Homo sapiens: one gene and its partners. The protein of the gene in region 2 purifies or fractionates together with the protein of the main gene of each other region. This does not show direct contact. Each region holds a gene or a part of one and is shown on either strand. Other genes may lie near its edges. The genes, in order: LMBR1, CACNG6 and MSMO1.

Region 1 (3,652 bases), on a different chromosome or scaffold from region 2:
GTCTCCAAAAAGTCTTAAGGCCCATAGGAAAAGCAAAACAAAAAGCCGCTTTAAGTGCTTGAGGAAGACTAACCTGTTGTTTTCTCTTCTAGACAAGTGTCTTAGTAAATAACTACTGCCCCAGAAAACTTGGTATAAAATTTGTGGATAGGCTGAACGTTCAGTTAAAGAAAGGATACAAAATCAAAATGATTTCAAGCGCAGCTCCCACAAAACCAAACGTAGAAAGAGAGGCATTTCCTATTCCAGGCCCCTGGGGTGGGAGAAAGACACTTTTCAGAATTTGATGACACCATTATATTGGTTTCCCTAAAACAGCTGTTTCATAAAATAAGACAGTTGAAATTATGAATGTTTACTACTTTGAAATAACATCTAGACTTTCAAAGGCCAACAAGACATGACATTAGACTGATTTCATCAACAAATTCAGGCACCATGTTAACAATTTTAATAAGCTCAAGAAAAATTACTTATCTCAAATGTAATTTAAGTTACTTGTCAAGATGACATGATTATGCTTACTGTTATAAAATGGGGCAACTTGCCACTTGAGGAAAAAAATCCTGAATAGTTTTGGGAAAGAGTTTTTAAAAACACAATAGAAAAATAAGAATAGGATACATAGCTATCTGAATGCTTACACAATATACAAAGATTACACAATTCAAGTATGTCAAAATTAAGCTAAGAGTAGAAAGAGAGTAAATGTGCATATCCTGTTCCCATACCTGAAAGTTTCCTTTGCCCAAATTTTCCTTGGGAATTCAGAGTTACAAAGGATGTAACTGTTAACATAGATTTTTAAAAAAGTAATGCTATAAATTTTTTCCTAAACAATTATCCCTATCTCAAAAACTATCTTTACCTAGAACTTAAAAAAAAAACACAAAAAAGTTACTATTTTTATAATTAGATCTGAAAAAATCATTCCCTACTGAAGTATTTTCAAAGATTACTAATAAAAGAAACTATCTGAATGTTTTACTAGTCAGCACAGATTACATCTAATAGAAACACCAGGGATAATTAAGAATCTACAGTCAGCCCAATAAAAAATAACTTTTTGACAATCTTTTGAAGAAGAAATAAATGATGCTGGTAGAAAGTGATGGGGTTCAAGACACACTACTCCAAAATTTGGGACCTGGTATTTGAGAAAACCTAGGAAGGTCACACACTGATCTGTCTCCTTCTCCTGCGAAGCAGGCCATAAGACCCCCATCCAAGGGTGCCCCCCGCAACCCACCCAGAGGAGAAGCACATGTTTATCTCCGGAGACACGAGGACACCGAGAAGAATATGAACAGGCCTTGCTAAATCCCCCCGGTTTATAATCATTAGATCACACCCCTGTCTTCCAATCATACTTCCCACTACTGTCCACTCTTCAACAAACCAGAGCATAAAAGTACACAGCTTTTTCTGTTTCTTTGGTCTTCTTTATTTCTGAAGACCCCTGTGATATGTAAAACTTATCTTAAATAAGTTTGTCAGCTTTTCTCTTATTAATCTTTTGTTATAGGCATCTCAGCCATGAACCTTCCAATAGGTTAGAAAAAGGTATTACTTCTTCTCCCCTACAGAAGCTTATTGATCAACAGAGATAATACTTTGGAATTATGCTATCTCAAGAGAAGCCATGTAGGAAGGATTAAGAGTATCTAATTTTTTTACACAATTATACAGGGATCTCCTATGACGTACAAGTCATTCTCCACTAAGCACTAAGGGGGATGGGTACAAAAATATACTATAGGGCTTGGGACTTGTTTTGTTGGTATAGTAAAATGGGTTAAAAGTGACTAGGAAGTCAGTATAGTAAGCGACTTCCTGTTCTATCAGTGGGTTTGGGTATAAAACTAAAGAAAAAGATAAGACTGTACATGGCAAAGGGTAGTTTCTTGTCTGTCTGTAGGATGAGGCACCTGGAGCATGATGGTGGGCTTGTACTCATGGAGAAGAGGCTGTAAGTGAATACAACAATGGCAATAACAGATGGCACAAGGTCCTGGAAAGACTCAGGTGGGGGGATCTGAATCAAGACTATGGCTAAAGGAATTTCATATAGCTAAATGAATTTCAGTAAAATCAAGATAAACTCTGATAAGAAATCTAAAAGGAAATTCCAACACTTGAAAAAAGGCCCTGTCAATCCAAAGTAAAAAATTAGAAACAAAAATCACAGTTTATATTTTAAAGGCTCTTTGCATAAAGAAATTCATACAACTTGAAGTATATACATGCACAAAGGTGAATGTTTTCATTTGCTTACTTGAAATACTCAGGGTATAGACATAGAATACTTTTGCAAAAGAAAGACATTTTAAAGGATTTTACTTTACCCTTGTTCCTTTTGGCATTGCTGTTTCATCAACCAATAGGCAAAGAATATTACAAGCCACCAAGAGGACCGAGATGGACTACAAGACAAACAGCAAACTGTCAGCTCTCAAGATTTTTCACCAATACAAAATATTAAAATCTAGGTAACCAAATACACGTTTCAGAATAGAGGGAAAGCAGTCAAGACCAAAACGCTATATATAAAACTAAAGTAATCAGACTACAAACAAGAACTGAAGAAATTCTAAAAGATTCTGCAAGTTATTGTCATTTCAAAGCTTGTGACAAAAGCTGGTAGTATATAGATCCTTTTACTAAGTGATCTCACCAATTGGAAACACACAACTCCACAGACTTAAAAAAGTGGTAAAATATTATCAGAACTAACTTCATAATGTAATTTTCATATTTTATCACAGAATTTAAAGCAGGTTATCTGCAACACCTTGTTTTCTTAATTTTCAATGAAAACAAAGACTGAATTTCCTGCTTTCATGAAGAAACAGATAATCTTCAGAATTTTTTTTAAATTGCCATTAATTTCCATTTTTGCTTTATTGGATTTTCATAAATAAAGGCATAGATGGATTTTAATCCTGTTGATAGAAAACTAGTTTATGAAAAACCATTTAGCTGAGGGAGCTGCCATACTCAAATGCTGAAGTAAATAAAATATAATTTGCTTTTATTTAACTAGGCAAATAAATTCTTACTGTCTCAATAAGAAGGAGAACCATAACAGCGGGATACACCAAATTTCTTTCCCATGCTGAAGCCTTTTTTCGCCTCTCTATTAAAAGGAAAAACAAAATAAAACAAAGTTTTCTCCAAATTAACATTTTCCTTCCATAATGCTATAATCTGTTTTATACATAATTTCTTTTTAAAAAACATAAATTACTTTTAATTTTCCTCCATAAACTAAAAAAACTACAGATAGGGCCTTGCTCTGTCACCCAGGCTAGAGCACAATGGTATAGCCGCAGCTCACTGCAACCTCCTAGGCTCAAGTGATCCTCCCATCTCAACCACCCAAGTAGCTGGGACTACAGATACATGCCACCATGCCTGGCTAATTTTTTTATTTATTTTTTGTGGAGACAGGTTCTTGCTATGTTGCCCAGGCTGGTCTTGAACTCCTGGGCTCAAACGATCCTCCCCGCTCAGCTTCCTAACATGGTGAGATTACAGGCACGAACTACGATACCCAGACAAAAATCAGAGTTTTAAAACCAGTTTGCTACATTAAACACCTCAATCCTGTGATGCGTAAATTTCAGCTCTGTGAAGACATCTCAATCATTAA
Region 2 (3,652 bases):
CCTGAGGACAGAACGATGAAAAAGATAAAGATGATGTCTGTTTTCATGGAATTTGTAGCTTGGTAGGAATTTGGTGCTGGCGTTATTATTAAACTCACACCTGCATTACCCCTGGGGGTGCACAGGAAGGTGTTGATATAAAAGTGTTTTATGAAAGTCTTGGCCGGGCGCGGTGGCTCACGCCTGTAATCCCAGCACTTTGGGAGGCCAAGGTGGGTGGATCACTTGAGGTCAGGAGTTGGAGACCAGCCTGGTCAACATGATGAAACCCTGTCTCTACTAAAAATACAAAAATTAGCCAGGCGTGGTGGCACACACCTGTAATCCTAGCTACTTGGGAGGCTGAGTCAGGAGAATTGCTTGAACCTGAGAGGCGGAGGTTGCAGTGAGCTGAGATTGTGCCACTGCACTCCAGCGTGGGCAACAAGAGCGAAACTCTGTCTCAAAAAAAAAAAAAGAAAGAAAAGAAAAGAAAACATTTGATCCAAGAAGAAAACCAAGGCCCAGAAAATAAAAGGAACCTTCCCAAGGCCACACAGTGATTCAGGGCACAGCTTGGGCTGGAACCTAGAGGCAGAGGTTGTAGTGAGCTGAAATCGTGCCACTGCACTCCAGCCTGGGCGACAGAGTGAGACTCCATCTCAAAAAAGAAAGAAAGAAAACCGAGTTTAAAATCCCACCTCTGCCATCATGCCATCATTGATTGTGTGCCCATGAGTAATTCATCTGACTTCTCTGAGCCTCAATTTCCTCATTTATAAAATGGGGGAAGCTGTGTGTGGTGGCTCATGCCTATAATCCCAGCACTTTGGGAGGCCAAGACAGGCAGATCACTTGACGTCAGGAGTTCGAGACCAGCCTGGCTTATGTGGTGAAACCCTGTCTCTACCGAAAAATACAAAAATTAGCCAGGCGTGGTGGTGCCTGCTTGTAATCCCAGCTACTTGGGAAACTGAGGCAGAAGAATCACTTGAACCCAGCAGGCGGAGGTTGCAGTGAGCCGAGATCATGCCATTACACTCCAGCCTGGGAGACAAAGGGAGACTCTGTCTCAAAAATAAATAAGTAAATAAAATGGGGGATAGTAAGCCCTGCCTAATAGTGCTGTTGTAAGGATTTGAACTGGAAGTACAATAAACTGAAGTGTTGTTTATTACTGAGGGCTACATTTCACAAGATGCAGCATTTTATTTAGACCTTCAGCTCCAAGAATGCAACAGTCCTTGCAGACCTCAAGTCTCAAATCTAAAAGAGCATTTAGAGACCATCAAATTCTGAGCCAACAATAGGGCTTGGAACTCTTCCACCTTTGAGCCTGCTATAGCCCCTGGGCTTCCCTGACCTCTCAACACGCTATAGTGCTTAAAACATCTCAGCATGAAACAGTGTTTGGGGACTCCATGTTCAAACCTTGAAAAGCGTTTGGACAGCTTCCAATTCCCAGCCAACAACAGGGCTTAGAACTCTCCAATTTTTGAGACCTCTATAGTCCTTGCGCTTTCTCTAATGCCTAGCATGCAACAGTGATTGGAAATCCCAGGTCCAAATCTAAAACAATGTTTGGACACCCTCCAATCCTTAGCCCGGTTGTTGGGGTTCTCCCATCTTTGAACCTACTATAGCCCTTGGGCTTCCCCTCAACTCCAAGCATGCAACAGGGCTTGGAGATCCCACCTCCCAGCGTGCAACAGTGTGTGGAGATCCTACTCCCAGCATGCAACAGTGTGTGGAGACCCTACTCCCAGCATGCAACAGTGCATAGAGATTCCATCTCTGAGCGTGCAACAGTGCATAGAGACCCCATCTCCCAGCATGCAACAGTGCCTGGAGATCCTCCCAGCATGCAATGTCCTCAGCCTCCAGGCTCTGAACCCTCACCTGAGAGGCCAAAGCAGACGGCTCCAACTCGGAGCAGGAACTCTGCACCTTTACTGAGCACCATGATGATACAGAGGCACCCCAAGGCCATGACTGCCAGGCCCAGCACTGCTATCACCGCAGCTGCCAGATTCACCTCTGCCAGCAGGAGAGAGGAAAGAAGCAGAGAACATGGGATGTAGGGAATGAGGAGGATTCACCCATAGGAACCCAGAACCAGGAAGATGTAAGATTCGGGACGAGAGAAGAATTTTCAAGTAGAGTATCATCCAGCCCAACATTTTACTTACACTGTTGAAGGAATTAAGACTCAGAAAGGGTCAGTTATTTCTCTAAAGTCACTGAGCAAAGGGAGGAGAGGGCCAGGATTAGAAAGAGTTGAGAATTACCAACTATTACTTAGGATCTGGTTACCACTGGTTTACAGTTGAGGAAGCTGAGGCAGTGGGGTGTGTGGGAGACGATGGCAAAGGCAGTGTGCTACAGTGGAATGATCCAGGTTGGAAATCTCACCAACTACTTCCTACATGGAAGATTCTAGTAGGATTTTCCAGATTCCAGTAGGAATTTAGGCTGAACCCTTCTCAGCCTAAATTTCCTCCTGTGGACCAGGTGCGGTGGCTCACACCTATAATCCCAGCACTTTGGGAGGCCAAGGTGGGTGGATCACTTGAGATCAGGAGAGTTCAAGACCAGGCTGGCCAACATGGTGAAAAATTTTCCTGGGAAGAATAATTGTAACCATTCCTGGACTTCTGGAAGATGGAAGATAAAGCCCCCACCCTGCAGGGCTACTGCGAGGACTGGAGATCTTACAGATGGAGTGCCCAGCACTGTGGTCAGTACTTGATGCCTGCAGGTTTGTGAGATGTCCAAGTGCTACCCACAGAGAGGGGCTGCGACTTGCCCGGGGTGACACAGAACGTGGCATAGGCAGAGATGGGGTAAGAGCTCTAGGCACAGCTAGGTGCAGTGGCTCACGCCTGTCATCCCAGCACTTTGGGAGGCTGAGGAGAGGGATCACCTGAGGTCAGGAGTTCAAGACCAGCCTGGTCAACATGGTGAAACCCCATCTCTACTAAAAATATAAAAATTAGCTGGGCATGATGGTGGGCGCCTATAGTCTCAGCTACTCAGGAGGCTGAGGTAGGTGAATTGCTTGAACCTGGGAGGCGGAGGTTGCAGTGAGCCGAGATTGTGCCACTGCACTCCAGCCTGGGTGACAGAGCAAGACATCATCTCAAAAAAAAAAAAAAAAAAGAGTTCTCTAGATTCTCTAGAGCACCATGTCCCCATCATTAACTCTCCCGCCAGCACTCCCCAGGGGACAGCCACAGATTATAGACACGAGACCTGCCCTGGGGTAAAGCAGAGGAGGGGATAACTCTCTCTAGAACTCCTCCAGCACGCTCAGCATTTCCCCCACCTGTCACCCAGCAGGGGGTGAAAAGTTCTCACCTTTCTTTGTGGTTCTCTGAAAGATGCGTGCATTCTCCCCCGTGGTGAAGAATTTAAAATAGGTGCAGTTTGCTTCTGTGGGAGCAGGAGAGAGAAAACAGACATGAGGATGTGAGGTCCCTTGCGTAAGCTCAGGGCTGGACAGTTAACAGCCCACGGGAGCCTAAAACTTGGACATCAGCATCCCTGATACACAGAGGAGAAAAATGATGCCCAGAGGTGTGAAAGCCACCTGCGACCACACTGCCATCTAGGAGCTGGGACTCCTACCCGGGGCTCTGAGCCCCAGACCTGTGGCCCCAAGTGCGCCATTAGC
Region 3 (3,652 bases), on a different chromosome or scaffold from region 2:
TAGACTAAAATTAATGTAAAATACACACGGAATTGCAAAGACTTATTAAATATCTCATTAAGTATTTTTTAGAATTTGATTACTGATTGAAATAATAATTTACATTTATTTCTTATTTTTTTTGAGACAAGGTCTCACTCTGTCGCCTATGCTAGAGTATAGTGCTGCAATCTTTCTGCTTCAGCCTCATAAGTAGCTAGGACTTACATCACCATGCCTGGGTATTTTTGTATCTTTTTTGTAGAGACAGGGTCTTGCTATGTTTCCCAGGATGGTCTTGAACTCCTGGCCTCAAGCAATCCTCCTGCCTTGGCCTCCCAAAGTGCTGGAATTACAGGCATGGACCCTGCACCCAGCGATAGTTTACATTTATTGAGCTAAATGATACACATTATGAAATTAATTTCCTTATTTCTTTTTACCTTTTCTATGTATTCTACTAGAAAATTTAAAATTACATACGTGGCTTCATATTTCTATTGGATATCACTGCTTTAGCCTCACAAAACAAAGCCCTATGTACTTTTAAAATATTCAGCAACATTAATGATAATATTCTATTTCTAGTCCCTTATACTCACCTTTTGAATTTTGTATTTTTTCATATAAGGTATAAATTGAAATAAAAATCCAGGTAAACAGAATAAGAAATAAAGGGCTTCATGAACTATAAGGGATCCCCATGTTGCAATCTGGAACTTTGTATAATTATTCAACATATAGTTCCAAGCATTTTTAAATGGTTCTTGCAGAGGATTCTCAGGTAAAAGTGAATCTACATATTCCACAGCCAAGGATGCTGAACTAAAGATGCTGACACTTTCATTTGTTGCCATTTTTCAAATCTCTGCAGACAGCCTTATAATTCTGTAGAAATGAATACATATATAATAAGTTAAACAATGAGCTTTCAAAAAATAAAACAGTTAAAAAATGCATCCTCTGATCATTTTAAAAATGATAATTACTAAAGGAGTATAAATTTTTTACCAAAAAATTACTAAAGGAGTACAAATGGTTTTACACCATTTTAAAACATTTGCTGGATATCATCACCATTTCTATTTGTAGATATTCCTTTAAAAAACACATTATTTTCAAGAACAATAGCTAAAAGAACAATAGGGGAAAAATTTTTTCAAGCTATATTTAAAGAAATCGTCAGTGTGGTTCTCATGGAAAAGGTTCTAATTTAAATGAGCAATAGCTGGGTTTAAAAGTATCACTTAAAGCCAAAAGAACCTATAAAGAAAAAGCCTGCCAAATATGAGTATATAAAAATTAAGTACCTCCTACTGGGGAATAGAAAGACAAAGTCAAAGATTAAATGACAAACTGGGAAAAATATTTCCAACATTTTACAACAAAGGGCTACAAAGTGTGCTTTAGAAAAAAGACTAAAAAGACAACAGAAGAACGACAAATGCCATTCACAAGCAGTTCACAGAAAAATAAAGGCAAATGGTCACTAAACAAGGAAGAATCTTCACTTCATTAAATGAGGAAATGCACCCTAAAACAAAGAGACACTTTTAGCCTGAGTAGCAAATCTTTAAAAGCTTATTAATGTCCAGTACTGGTAAGAGGGTGAGAGAACAGGCATGACCACACACTGTGGGCAGGGGGGATACATCAGTGTATCATTGGAGGAAAAATTAGCAACACCTAATTCAAAATGAATACATCCTTTGATCCAGCAACTTTCTCATTCAAGGGTACAAAGACAGATCCGCTAAGATGGAAGGAAGCATTGCTTGTAGCAGCAAAAACAAAGAGGAAAAAATAAAAGCAAAACACAAATAAGCCATCAACAAGGTATGGGTTAAATAAATTAAGTCCTTCCATAGACAATTATACAGCCATTTAAAAGAACAGGGAAGATCTATACGCTCTACATAGAAAGATGTCTAAGATACAGTGTTAATCCAAGTAACAAGTTACAGAACAGTATGCATAGCAAGAGCCCCACTTAAGATTTTTTGAAAAGGATATGTATTTTATCTATGCACTTTTATGCATATGTATATACACAGACACACAGAAACAAAAAATGTACATATGGATAAAGGGAAAAATTCACACTGGTGACTTCTAGGAAAACAGAGTTGTGTGGCAGGGCAGGAGATAGTGTTAATGAAGACAGCGTGGCGGGGTAGGGGAGAGTGTTATGGAAGACAGCTCGGCGGGGTAGGAGACAGTGTGGTGGAGTAGGGGACAGTGTTATGGAAGACAGAGTGGCGACGGGGTAGGGGAGAGTGTTACGGAAGACAGAGCGCGGCGGGGTAGGAAATAGTGTTATGGAAGACAGAAAAAAAAATCTGACATATGTCTTTTGCACAATTTAAACTTTTTAAATGAGCATGTTCTACTTACCTAATAAATAAGCTCAATAGGTCACTAACCAAAAAATAAACTTCTCAAGGGTCACTTTCCTAAAAATGTTCACCACTGCTGCTTCTAATTTATGAATTTTTTGGACCATTTTAAAAATGAGTATTTTAAAGCCTCAGAAGCATTCTAAATAGTGCTTTAAAAGTCCCCTTCCCCAACACTTCTCAAACTGACCTTTTATCCCATTCTACAGAAGGAATATTGAGAACCTAGCCAACTCCTCCAGGCATCTGAATTCACTTCAGGCCGTCCTCCTTCTGTCCTACTCATCTCAAATGACTTACACCACAGTGACTATAGTGTTCCATCCTGTGTCATTACAGGCCTTAAAATTTCTTTGCTCATTCATTCTTTCCTCTAAGACTGACTAGTCTTCCTGTGTTCTTATCTTACCTCAAGAACTTGTCCATCACTTATCCTTTCCCATCTTTCATCCTTCTCCCTTCATGGAATCCATTCCTTCAGGTCTAAAAACACATTCACGTCTTTTCTTTTTTTTTTTCTTTTTTTTTGAGACAGGGTCTCACTCTGTCACCCAAGCTGGAGTGCAGTGGCACAATTATGGCTCATTGCAGCCTCGACCTCCCAGGCTCAAGCAATCCTCCCACCTCAGCCCCTCGTAGCTGGGACCACAGGCACATGCCACCACGCCTGGCTAATTTTTTTAATTTTTTGTGGAGACAGGGGTCACCCTATGTTGCCCAGACTGGTCTTAAACTCCTAGGCTCAAGTAATCCTCCCATCTCAGCCTCCCAAAGTGTGGGGATTATAGGTGTGAGCCACTGCGCCCAGCCTACATCTTCCTTTGTTGATAAACACCTTCCTAGCCTCCATTACCTCTTCCAAGCCACTGTCCCATTTATCTTTCTTTGAACCAACCAACTTCTTTCTCAAAGGAGAGCTCTACATAAAGATTGCTTAACTCAGCTGGGCATGGTGGCTCACGCCTGTAATCCCAGCACCTTGGGGAGGCTGATGCGGGCAGATCACCTAAGGTCAGGAGTTCAGGTGAATCGCTTGAAATGAGGAGGTGGAGGTTTCAGTAAGCTGTGACTGCACTCTAGCCTGGGCACCAACAGCAAAACTCCGTCTCAAAAAAAAAGAATAAAAAAGGTTGCTTAACTCACCCACACAACTCACTGAGCTACTTGCAATCTGGCTCCCCACCTGCACCAAAATGTCTTCAATCATCTTCTAAGTTGTAAAATAAGGCAACCATCCAATCTTAATTTTTCTCAAGGTGATTAGTAAATTTGACAAT

What was found.
Region 1: the proteins of CACNG6 (region 2) and LMBR1 purify together in Homo sapiens (affinity purification with mass spectrometry; one large-scale study listed by BioGRID and IntAct). This does not show direct contact.
Region 3: the proteins of CACNG6 (region 2) and MSMO1 purify together in Homo sapiens (affinity purification with mass spectrometry; one large-scale study listed by BioGRID and IntAct). This does not show direct contact.

The regions. Positions count from the first base shown.
Region 1 is NC_000007.14:156,725,585-156,729,236, forward strand, and holds part of LMBR1 (limb region 1 protein homolog), read right to left. Parts: intron 3,137-3,652; coding exon 3,060-3,136; intron 2,424-3,059; coding exon 2,346-2,423; intron 254-2,345; coding exon 180-253; intron 1-179. UniProt on the Homo sapiens protein: Putative membrane receptor.
Region 2 is NC_000019.10:53,997,998-54,001,649, reverse strand, and holds part of CACNG6 (voltage-dependent calcium channel gamma-6 subunit), read right to left. Parts: intron 3,412-3,652; coding exon 3,337-3,411; intron 2,017-3,336; coding exon 1,879-2,016; intron 1-1,878. UniProt on the Homo sapiens protein: Regulates the activity of L-type calcium channels that contain CACNA1C as pore-forming subunit.
Region 3 is NC_000004.12:165,330,555-165,334,206, reverse strand, and holds part of MSMO1 (methylsterol monooxygenase 1), read right to left. Parts: intron 868-3,652; 5' UTR 837-867; coding exon 582-836; intron 1-581. UniProt on the Homo sapiens protein: Catalyzes the three-step monooxygenation required for the demethylation of 4,4-dimethyl and 4alpha-methylsterols, which can be subsequently metabolized to cholesterol.